Linked DNA regions of Homo sapiens. The protein of the gene in region 3 purifies or fractionates together with the protein of the main gene of each other region. This does not show direct contact. Each region holds a gene or a part of one and is shown on either strand. Other genes may lie near its edges. The genes, in order: UBXN7, SPRTN and XKRX.

Region 1 (3,656 bases), on a different chromosome or scaffold from region 3:
GCAAGAAGATTGACTGAGCCCAGGAGTTCAAGGCTAGCAAGTTTTTTTTTTTTTTAAAGTTCTCTCAAGGCTGCAAAGACTACAGTGAGTTAATATCATGCCACTGCAGTCCAGCCTGGGCAACAGTGTGAGACCACATCTCAAAAAATACAATACAATACAATAAATACAATACAATACAATAAAAATGTTGCTAGGTGTGGTGCTCACACCCAGAATCCCAACATTTTGGGAGGCTGAGGCGGGAGGATTGCTTGAGGCCAGTTTGAGACCAGCCTAGACAACATACGGAGGCCTCCGTCTCTACAAAACTTTAACAGCTTAGCTGGCATGGTGATGCACATCTGTGGTCCCAGCTACTTAGGAGGCTGAGGTGGAAGGATCGCTTGAGCCCAAGAGGTGGAGGCTGTAGCGAGCCATGATCACACCACTGCACTGCAGCCTGAGAAATGGAACAAGATCCTGCCCAAAGAAAAAAACAGGACGGGCGCGTTAGCTCACGCCTGTAATCCCAGCACTTTGGGAGGCCGAGAAGGGCGGATCACTTGAAGTCAGCAGTTTGAAACCAGCCTGCCCAACAAGGCGAAACCCCATCTCTACTAAAACTACAAAAATTAGCCAGATGCAGTGGTGTACGTCTGTAATCCCAGCTACTTGGGAGGCCAAGGCAGGAGAATCGCTTGAACCCAGGAGGCGAAGGTTGCAGTGAGCCAAGATCACACCACTGCCCTCTAGCCCTAGCAACAGAACAAGACTCTGGCTCAAAAAAAGGAAAAAAAAAAAACCAACAAAACAAAACTATTTTTATCCCTACTGCTATCAAAGCCAAACAGCCATGAAAACCAATGTGAGATTGCTGTATCTTTGCAAGTTCAGTCTCTTATTTGCAACCAATCTTGATACCAATTATCAAACATGTCTACCTAGTAATAGTATATTCTAGAAATTAAGTATAGAAGTAAATTCTAGGAGGGCCAGAGAGCCAGGCCCTAAAGCTATATTAACCAATAAAAATGCTCAACTATACCATGACAGTTGTTTCAGCAAAAACAAAAAACACCACTTCCAGCCGGCTGTGGTGGCATGTACCTGTAGTCCTAGCTATTCGGGCAGTTGAGGTGAGAAGGCTGCTTCAGCCCAGGAGTTCTAGGACAGTCTGGGCAAAACAGCAAGATCCCACTCCAAAACAAAAAACAAAACACACAAAAAAACCAACCACTTTCACTGCTATTTAGACCTGGATATCAGAAGCCCTCCCAGAGCTGCCCCTCAGGAAGTAGACACCTTTACCACTAGGCTTGCCAGGTCAGTCCTCCTGCCCAACCTATTCACATTGCTTCCTTCTAAATCCAGATCCTGGGGCATCTGCCTGCACTCTAGCTGCAAGACAGACTGGCAGGAGTATGAGTATCATGATTTCACCAAGAAGATGGAACTCTCATGTGGGAAATTATCAAAATATAAGGAGGATATCTAAGATGCTATAGCCACAGTGATAGTTGTCCACTAGTTAGATTATCTTTACCATCTTAACATCGAACATTTTATATAAGATGCTTATGACCAATTACATTTATTTTCCCATCACCACCTCCTAATTATACTTACTGAACGGGCACATTTTTTGGGGGGACTGCTAGAAAGTCCATCCAGTTGTCCATGTTCACCCAGAAATCCCGTCACTTGGTCCAAGAAAGAAGATACATCTAACTGGTGCCATTCTACTAGCTTCTGACCTAAGGATTAAAAACCAAGATCTATAAATAAATATAATATCTAGAATCCTTCTGAACATTCTCCAGGATCTATAAATATAATACCTAGAATCCTTCTGAACACTCTCATTAAGTATCTCTTTCAGCATATGCATAGATTAAAAACCTGGATCTATAAAGGTAATATCTAGAATCTTTCTGAACATTCTTATTAAGTATCTCTTTCAGCATATGCATAGATTAAAAACCAGGATCTATAAAGGTAATATCTAGAATCTTTCTGAACATTCTCATTATCTCTTTCAGCATATGCATACATTAAAAACCAGGATCTGTAAATATAATATCTAGGATCTTTCTGAACATTCTCATTAAGTATCTCTTTCAGCACATGCATAAAGTGTACTGTAAAGACATATCCTCTCCACCAGCTTATGCTACATAGTGTCTTCATAACCTAGAAGTCACATCAATTATACTCACCTAACAGATTCCCACCCGTAATGATAGGGCAACTATCTTATCTGCTGCTATCACTTACTGCCATTTAGGAAGAAGAGATTCAGACAAAGCAATATCTATATAAAACACCATCAATTAATAAAACCAGCTCCACCCTCTGCTTCTCAGGTGGGATTACAACTAGTATCTGGGCAATCTTAATATTTTAATGATAAAAAAAACTTTTGTCTTGTTTTGTTTTTTTGAGATGGAGTCTCACTCTGTTGCCCAGGCTGGAGTGCAGTGGCGCGATCTCGGCTCACTGCAACCTCCACCTCCCGGGTTCAGGCCATTCTCCTGCCTCAGCCTCCCAAGCAGCTGGGACTACAGGTGCCCGCCACCATGCCCGGCTAATTTTTTTTGTATTTTTAGTAGAGATGGGGTTTCACCGTGTTAGCCAGGATGGTCTGGATCGCCTGACCTCATGATCCGCCCACCTCGGCCTCCCAAAGTGCTGGGATTACAGGCATGAGCCACCACGCCCAGCTGGTAAAAAAACTTTTAAAAAATCCCTTAAAAAAGGTAAGATGAACATATCAGTTATTCTTCAAAAGAACAGAACTGCACAAACATAAAATACTACCATCTCCCAATGTTGCCAGAAAAAGATGTCCTAAATACATACATCAATAGATGTTTAAATAATTATAAAGGGAAAAAAACGAAACCTTCACCTAAATTACTGCAATTCTGAAAACAGATCCAGTCAAATATTAAAGATCAATCATTTAGGTAACTGAAAGACAAGTAATAGGTTAAAAGCTGCGTGCTGATATAAATCTTACCTGTCCGTGGGTCCAATATGGAAACATAGGGGAAATCCCCTAACTTATAAAACTGTATGTATCTCTGACCTTCCTCACTGTCATGATAAACCTGTTAAATCATTGATATAAAAAAAAAAGTCAGCCTCTAAGAAAAGAACCAACTATAACCTTCTTATACACCAACATCAATTAGCTCTCCAAATATACCTCCGGCCTATGTATTAAGATCTCACTCCTACACTAAAAAGAAAATAAATCTGGTTTGAACTCCTTCAACTTCCCACTTCCAGCACTCTCTGGAAATTTACCATAAACATATTGACCCATTCCTCCTCCTTTCCCAGTTCAGATGAGGTATTATTCTTCCTGCTCAAGTTATCTGTCAACTATGTCATTCATAACTCTCAACCATATACATCTTAATAAATCACAATATATTAAGATTATGGGCCAGGCATGGTGGCTCACGCCTGTAATCCCAGCACTTTAGGAGGCCGAGGCGAGTGGATCACAAGGTCAGGAGATTGAGACCATCCTGGCCAACATGGTGAAACCCCGTCTCTACTAAAATACAAAAATTAGCCGGGCCTGGTGACAGGCGCTTGTAGTCCCAGCTACTCGGGAGACTGAAGCAGGGGAATCGCTTGAACCCGGGAGGCAGAGACTGCAGTGA
Region 2 (3,656 bases), on a different chromosome or scaffold from region 3:
AAGTTTCTGTGCAAAATTAACAAAAGCATTTAAGATTGCTGGGGTTTTTGCTCTAAAAAATATAAATAATTTTTTTAAGCAAAAATCAGAAAGATCTTCAAAGACATACCTTTTTCATGATCCTCCATAATTTTTTTAAAAAACAATTTCCATCAGAAGAACTAGACTGTCATTAATGAATTTTAGTCTTATAAAATTATGCTGAACAGAAAAATGAGAGAATCAAACATTTTAACTTGGTCATTCATATATCCCTCTAAAAATTATCAACTGTATCTCTTAAAAGGAACTTTATTTATTTATCTTATTATTTCTCAGAGATGGGGTCTCACTTTTTCACCCAGACTGGAGTGCAGTGGCATGATTATATTTCACTGCAGCCTCAAATTCCTGGCATCAAGGGATCCCTCTATCTCATCCTCCTGAGCAGCTGGGATTACAGGCGCATGTCACCACACCTGGCTAATTTTTTTTCAATTTTTTGTAGAGACAAGGTCTCACCATCTTACCCAGACAGGTCAACTCCTGGGCTCAAGCAATCCATCTATCTGATTACGTGCATGAGCCACTGTACCCAGCCAGAACTTTATTTTTCAAGTAAATGCCGCTCAACGAAGAAGACTCAAATTCAAGAAAGGTACTGCAAAAGTTTCTCAATGTTCTAAATTAGAGCAATGATAAAGATCTATTCTCATAAAGGAGAAACAAATTTAGGTTCCTGATTTTTGGTTCAATTTAATTAAACATTAAAAAACATCTTGAAAATGGTACTGAACTTTTTAAATATCTATCATTTTCCATATTTAGTCTTAATTCAAGGATCTATACACAACACAGTCCCAAAATACCTCTGTTTTCCATGACTGTTCTATCGGGTTAAAATGAACTACCTCTAGTCCTAAATATGCCCCCAGTTGTCTGAACTCACTTTTGTTCACATTATTCCCATGCTTTCTGCCAAGAGTAGCCTCCTGTCCTATCTCTGCTTGTCAAAAGTACAATTCGTCCTTTAATGCTCACCTCTCCATGTTTTAATCGCAGGAGTGATGAGTTGAATGGTAAAGGGGACAGAACAAGAGCCTTAGAGTCAGGGAAACTGGAACCTAAACCCACAATCACAGCATGAGACCTGGGACAGGCTCCAAGTGGCTCCTCATCCCTAAAATGGGATATCCTCATTTTGCATGGCTGTGGTAAAGACGACGTTTAGTCCAAAGTCTGACACACAATAGGTGCTCAATAGTGAGCAGCAGGAGTGGTGATGGTAGTAACAAAATGTACAGTTATAAAGCTTTTCTTGACCTCCTCAACCAGATAAAGTCTGTTCCTTTTCTGAACCCCCTTCTCTATGATTTAGGTAACTACAGTTGTGCCTCACTTGGCAGGGATATGTTCTGAAAAATCCATTGTTAGGCAATTTTGTCATTGTGCAAACATCTTAAGAGTGTACTTACACAAACCTAAATGGTATAGCCTATGTAATATATATATATATATACACACACCTAGGCTATAGAGTATATATACCTAGGCTATAGAGTATATATACCTAGGCTATAGGGTATATATACCTAGGCTATAGAGTATATATACCTAGGCTATAGAGTGTATATACCTAGGCTATAGAGTATATATACCTAGGCTATAGAGTATAGCCTGCCGCTCCTAGGCAACGAACCTGCACAGGATGTTACTGTACTGAATGCTGTAGGCAAGTGCAACATAATGGTAAGTATTTGTGCAACTAAATATAAAGAAGAAAAAAGGTACAATAAAAATATAGTCTTGGCCAGGTGTGGTGGCTCACGCCTGTAATCCCAGCACTTTGGGAGGCTGAGTCGGGCGGATCACGAGGTCAGGAGATTGAGACCATCCTGGCTAACATGATGAAACCCCGTCTCTAGTAAAAAAAATACAAAAAATTGGCCTGGCATGGTGGCGGGTGCCTGTAGTCCCAGCTATGTGGGAGGCTGACGCAGGAGAATGGCCTGAACCCGGGAGGCGGAGCTTGCAGTGAGTGGAGATGCGCCACTGTACTCCAGCCTGGGCAACAGAGCGAGACTCCATCTCAAAAAAAAAATAAATAAATATAGTCCTGGCCGGGCATGGTGGCTCATACCTGTAATCCCATTCACTTTGGGAGGCTGAGGCAGAAGGATCACCTGGGGTCAGGAGTTTGAGACCAGCCAACATGGTGAAACCCCGCCTCTACTAAAAATACAAAAATCAGCCAGGCGTGGTGGCGCACACCTTTAATCGCAGCTACTTGGGAGGCTGAGGTAGGAGGATCCCTTGAACCAGGGAGGCGGAGGCTGCAGTGAGCCGAGATCATATCATTGCACTCCAGCCTGGGCAACAAGAGCAAAACTCCATCTCAAAAAACAAAAAATAAAAATAAATAAATAAATAAAAATATGGTCTTATAATCTTATGGGACCACTGTTATATATGGGGCCTGTCATTGACGAAAATGTCATTTTGTAACTTTCTGCCAACAGGAAATGCTCACTTGATACTATTATACATTCCCCATTCTCTTCTCACCCACTACTTAAAAACATTTTTTTCTCATGTGTTTATGTAATCATTTACCCAATACATATTCATTAAGCAACTCTTCCAGTTAGGGCTCCTTCTAAGGCTGATTTGGTTAATCATGCTGTTCAACTTTTTAAAATGTGTATTATTTTTTTCCGCTTATTCATTGGGTTACTAAGAAGGTTGTGTTAACATTCTTCAAGTATGAGTCTGGGTGTCTTGGCTGACACCTGTAATCCCAGCACTTTGGGAGGCTGAGGCGGGAGGATTGCTTGGGCCTGGGAGGTTGAGGCTGTAGTGAGACAGGGTCTTGCTCTGTCACCCCAGGCTGTAGTGCTGTGGTGTGATCTCGGCTCACTGTAACCTCCACCTCCCGAGTTCATGCGATTCTTGTGCGTCAGCCTCCTGAGTAGCTGGTACTACAGGCTGTGTCACCACACGCAGCTAATTTTTGTATTTTTAGTAGAGACGGGGTTTCACCATGTTGGTCAGGCTGGTCTCAAACTCCTGGCCTCAAGTGATCCGCCTGTCTCAGCTTCCCAAAGTGCTGGGATTATGGGCGTGAGCCACCGCACCCAGCCTGATTGTATATTCTTTTTGCTTCTGCTAATTTATGCCTCATAAAATTTAAAGTTATGTTATTACTTTTGGAGAGATTATGTATTGTTGCTTAATAGATTATTTTATTATTATAAAATATCCCACTTTTCCTCTAGTAAAACTTCTTCCCTTGAAGTCTTTAGTCTGATACTAATACTGGTTGAACATCCCTAATTTGACAATCCAAAATCTGAAATGCTCCAAAATCTAAAACTTTTTGAGCACTTACAAGATGATTAAAGGTTAAGTTCTAAGGAAATGCTCACTAAAGCCATTTCAGATTTGGGACTTTTGGATTAGGGAAGCTCAACCAGTAAGTATAATGCAAATATTCCAAAGTAAAAAAAAAAAAAATCTGAAACACTTCTGGTCCCACTTTGGATAATGAGTACTCAACCTTATAGCCACAATAGTTTTCTGCTTTTAAGTGTTTGGATGATTACTTTTCCTCATCCTTTTAAACTTAAAATAAGTGTGTCTTTACTGTAAGCATGTCTCTTTTAATCTAGCATGCCATT
Region 3 (3,656 bases):
CATCCCCCTATTTCCAAAAGTATGGTAGGTGGGTTTACTTTACCTGGATACTATCCTGCTACTTAGAAAATCAGGTCATTTTAAAACTGATAGAACATCTGAAAGTAAGCCTTATAAAAATGTAAGACTCATAGCAAGAAAACTATACAACTTTACTGAAGAAAACTATACAATTTTACTGAGGTACATGTTAAAATATTTAATAAAATGGAGAGATTTATCATTTCACAATATGAAATCCAACAATCCTATAAAGATGTAAATTCTCCCAAAATAACCTAAGTAATTTGATGCAAATCTCAATCGGAATCTCAATGAAATGTTTTTTTCTTTTGCTGTTATTATTTTGCTTTGTTTTTTGTAGGATGAATTAAAAAATTATCTTGAAAATTAATCTACTTAAAAGATTGGGGAAAATTGTTCTACCAGATGAGAGATGTGATAGGCCTTTGTAAGAAAGGCACAAAATCTAAAAGCAATAAAGAATTTGAATACATAAAAATGTAATACTTCAGAATGCCAGAAGATACTACAAAGTGTATTGTGGATATTAAATATATCACACACATATTACACGTATGACATGTATATACATATTTAAAATGTGTGTATGTACAAGCAAAAAATTATACAAATATATGCATACATATTCACAGCAGAGAAAGGATTAATAACAAGAATAAGTAAATAGCTCCTAAAAATTAATATGAAAAAGACAACCCACTAGAAAAAGCGAGTAAAATATATAAACAAGCAATTCACAGAACACACAATGACCAAACACAAAAAGATGCTCAGCTTCATTCATAACCAAAGAAAGCGAATTATTTTAAAAGTCAATTATTTTAAAAGCCAATTATTTTATAATTATACAAATAAAGAATATTGAGTTTAAGATATGAAGAAACAGAAACAGGCACATTTGTATACTGTTGGTGAGAGTATAAATTCATATATCTTTTTGGAAGAGTTATTTGGCAATATCAATAAAATTTTAAACATACATATCCTTCCACCCAGCAATTCTACTGCTATAAATTTATCCTACAAAGTCTCATTCATGTACACAGGTATTTATAAAGATGTTTACTGTGGCATAATTTGCAATTAGGAAACAACTTTTTTGTGAAAAATTAAAATTTGTGAGGCTGACATAGGGCTCCTGCTGCCCCTCTTTCTTCCACAGTGTGAAGTCCTTACTCATGGCCTCCAAACATCTGCAGAAGTAAAGCATCATGGGAACTTAACTAAAGCTGTCCTGAGAAGGGAGGTTGTAATGAGGGGAAAAAATAACTAGGGGAGGTTGTGCTACCTTTTTTTTTCCTTTTTGAGACAATCAATAGAATCCTATCAATAGAAAATTAGGAGAATAAAAAGTCTAATTCATATAAAGGAAATGTATATTATATATTTATTATTGTTATACATGTATATATAAATAACTTGAGAAAAGACATACTGGCATACTGTACTTTTGAAAAATACTTTGTTGACAGAATGTTTCATACAGTCCATTTTGGGGCAAAAACATGTACAATATATATTGTATGTATGTTTATGTTTACATAGTAAAAATAAGTCCAGAAGGATATATACTGGATGATTAACAGAGGTTATCTTTGGGGAGTGAGATTACGTTTCCTATTTTATATCTATTCTGTATGGTTTTTAATTTTTACTATAACCATGTCTGACTTTTGTAATTAAAAAAAGATAAAGACCAAAACTAGTAATGCATGATCACAAAAAAAATTTTCAAACCATACAGAAGAATTTTAAAAAGTAAGACTGCTGACTTTTCATTCCCACTCCGCAGAGGTAGTTTCTTGCATAGTTTCCAGAAATTTTCTGTGCAAATACAATTACTTATATGTCATTTTGTGCATGTATTACTTTTGTTATTTATTTATTTATTTATGAGACGGGAGTCTCCCTCTGTCGCCCAGGCTGGGGTGCAGTGGTGCAGTCTCAGCTCACTGCAACCTCCACCTCCCAGGTTCAAGCAATTCTCCTGCTTCAGCCTCCCAAGTAGCTGGGATTACAGGCACCCACCACCACGCCTGGCTGAATTTTTTTTTGAGACAGAGTCTCGCTCTGTTGCCCAGGCTGGAGTGCAACGGTGAGATCTCGGCTCCCAGGTTCAAGTGATTCTCATGCATCAGCCTCCCAAGTAGCTGGGATTATAAGCATCCACCACCATACCCGGCTAATTTTTGTATTTTTAGTAGAGACAGAGTTTCGCCAGGCCAGGCTGGTCTCAACCTCCTGACCTCAGGTGATCCACCTGCCTCGGCTTCCCAAAGTGCTGGGATTACAGGTATCAGCCACCATGCCCATCCTTGATTTTTTTTGTGTTTTTAGTAGAGATGGGGTTTCAACATGTTGGCCAGGCTGGTTTTGAACTCCCAACTTCAAGTGATCCGCCTGTCTTGGCCTCCCAAAGTGTTAGGATTACAGGCGTGAGCCATCATGCCCAGCCGTAATGTACACCTATTTTTATTAGATGATTTAAAGGAAAAGCATCATCATTTCCAAAGAGTTTTCTCCTCAAACTACTATGTATGTGAAAAGCTTCAAGACCAACAGAACTTCAAGAACAATTCTGAGTGGGGAAAAAAGACAAAAGAGGGCAAATTTTCTCCTTACCTTATTTGAGACATGGGACTTTGCCAAACAGGGTTAGAATCTAATAGGAAATGGTCCAAACCTGTACCCACACCTATACCAGTGCCTGCCCAAGCAGATGAAGCAAATCTCAGGCTGTTAAAATTCATTAACAACAATTTATCTCAACTTTGAAAACACTGACTCACATTTCATCTTCTGCTAGAGGTCTTACTCATTTCAGGATCCCTCTTCTACAAGTGGGAAATTAGGTCAGTGATTGCTTTGTAACTTCCTCCAAAGATCACAGTGAAGGTCAGAACTTGGTCCAGGCCTGACTCTCATTAGTATTAACCCCACGCTTTTTTTTTTTTTTTTTTTTTTTTTTTGAGACGGAGTCTTGCTCTGTCACCCAGGCTGGAGTGCAGTGACGCGATCTCGGCTCACTGCAAGCTCCGCCTCCCAGGTTCACGCCATTCTCCTGCCTCAGCCTCCCGAGTAGCTAGGACTACAGGCGCCTGCCACCACGCCCGGCTAATTTTTTGTATTTTTAGTACAGACGGGTTTTCATCATGTTAGCCAGGATGGTCTCAATCTCCTGACCTTGTGATCCACCCGCCTTGGCCTCCCAAAGTGCTGGGATTACAGGCTTGAACCACCGTGCCCAGCCCACGCTCCTTTTCTTTCTCTCCACTGGCATTAGCAGAAATGATTAAATCATTGGTTCCCAAATGTGGCTGATCAAAATCAACTGGGTACCTTTTAGAAATACATATTAAGATTGATTCAAGTCTGGGGAGTGAATATAATTTCAAAAAGAAGCTCATCACATGATTCTGATGATCAGTACTATTTGGGAACCTCTTATTAAAGACTGCCATCCTTAAACAAACAAAACAACAGCATAATTTAAACATTTTGGGCAAGGGAAAATATCCTACTGACTGCTGGTATTACTAGCTTCTTCTGGGCCCAGAGAAGGTTTATCTGTGACATTTTTAGTCTAAACAGCTTACCTGTTTAAGAAATCTGGCAGGCTTGAGATGTCTGAC

What was found.
Region 1: the proteins of XKRX (region 3) and UBXN7 purify together in Homo sapiens (affinity purification with mass spectrometry; one large-scale study listed by BioGRID and IntAct). This does not show direct contact.
Region 2: the proteins of XKRX (region 3) and SPRTN purify together in Homo sapiens (affinity purification with mass spectrometry; 2 studies listed by BioGRID and IntAct, with this or other methods). This does not show direct contact.

The regions. Positions count from the first base shown.
Region 1 is NC_000003.12:196,366,420-196,370,075, forward strand, and holds part of UBXN7 (UBX domain-containing protein 7), read right to left. Parts: intron 3,093-3,656; coding exon 3,002-3,092; intron 1,737-3,001; coding exon 1,609-1,736; intron 1-1,608. UniProt on the Homo sapiens protein: Ubiquitin-binding adapter that links a subset of NEDD8-associated cullin ring ligases (CRLs) to the segregase VCP/p97, to regulate turnover of their ubiquitination substrates.
Region 2 is NC_000001.11:231,341,168-231,344,823, reverse strand, and holds part of SPRTN (DNA-dependent metalloprotease SPRTN), read right to left. Parts: intron 1-3,656. UniProt on the Homo sapiens protein: DNA-dependent metalloendopeptidase that mediates the proteolytic cleavage of covalent DNA-protein cross-links (DPCs) during DNA synthesis, thereby playing a key role in maintaining genomic integrity.
Region 3 is NC_000023.11:100,918,859-100,922,514, forward strand, and holds part of XKRX (XK-related protein 2), read right to left. Parts: exon of another isoform or gene 3,621-3,656; intron 1-3,620.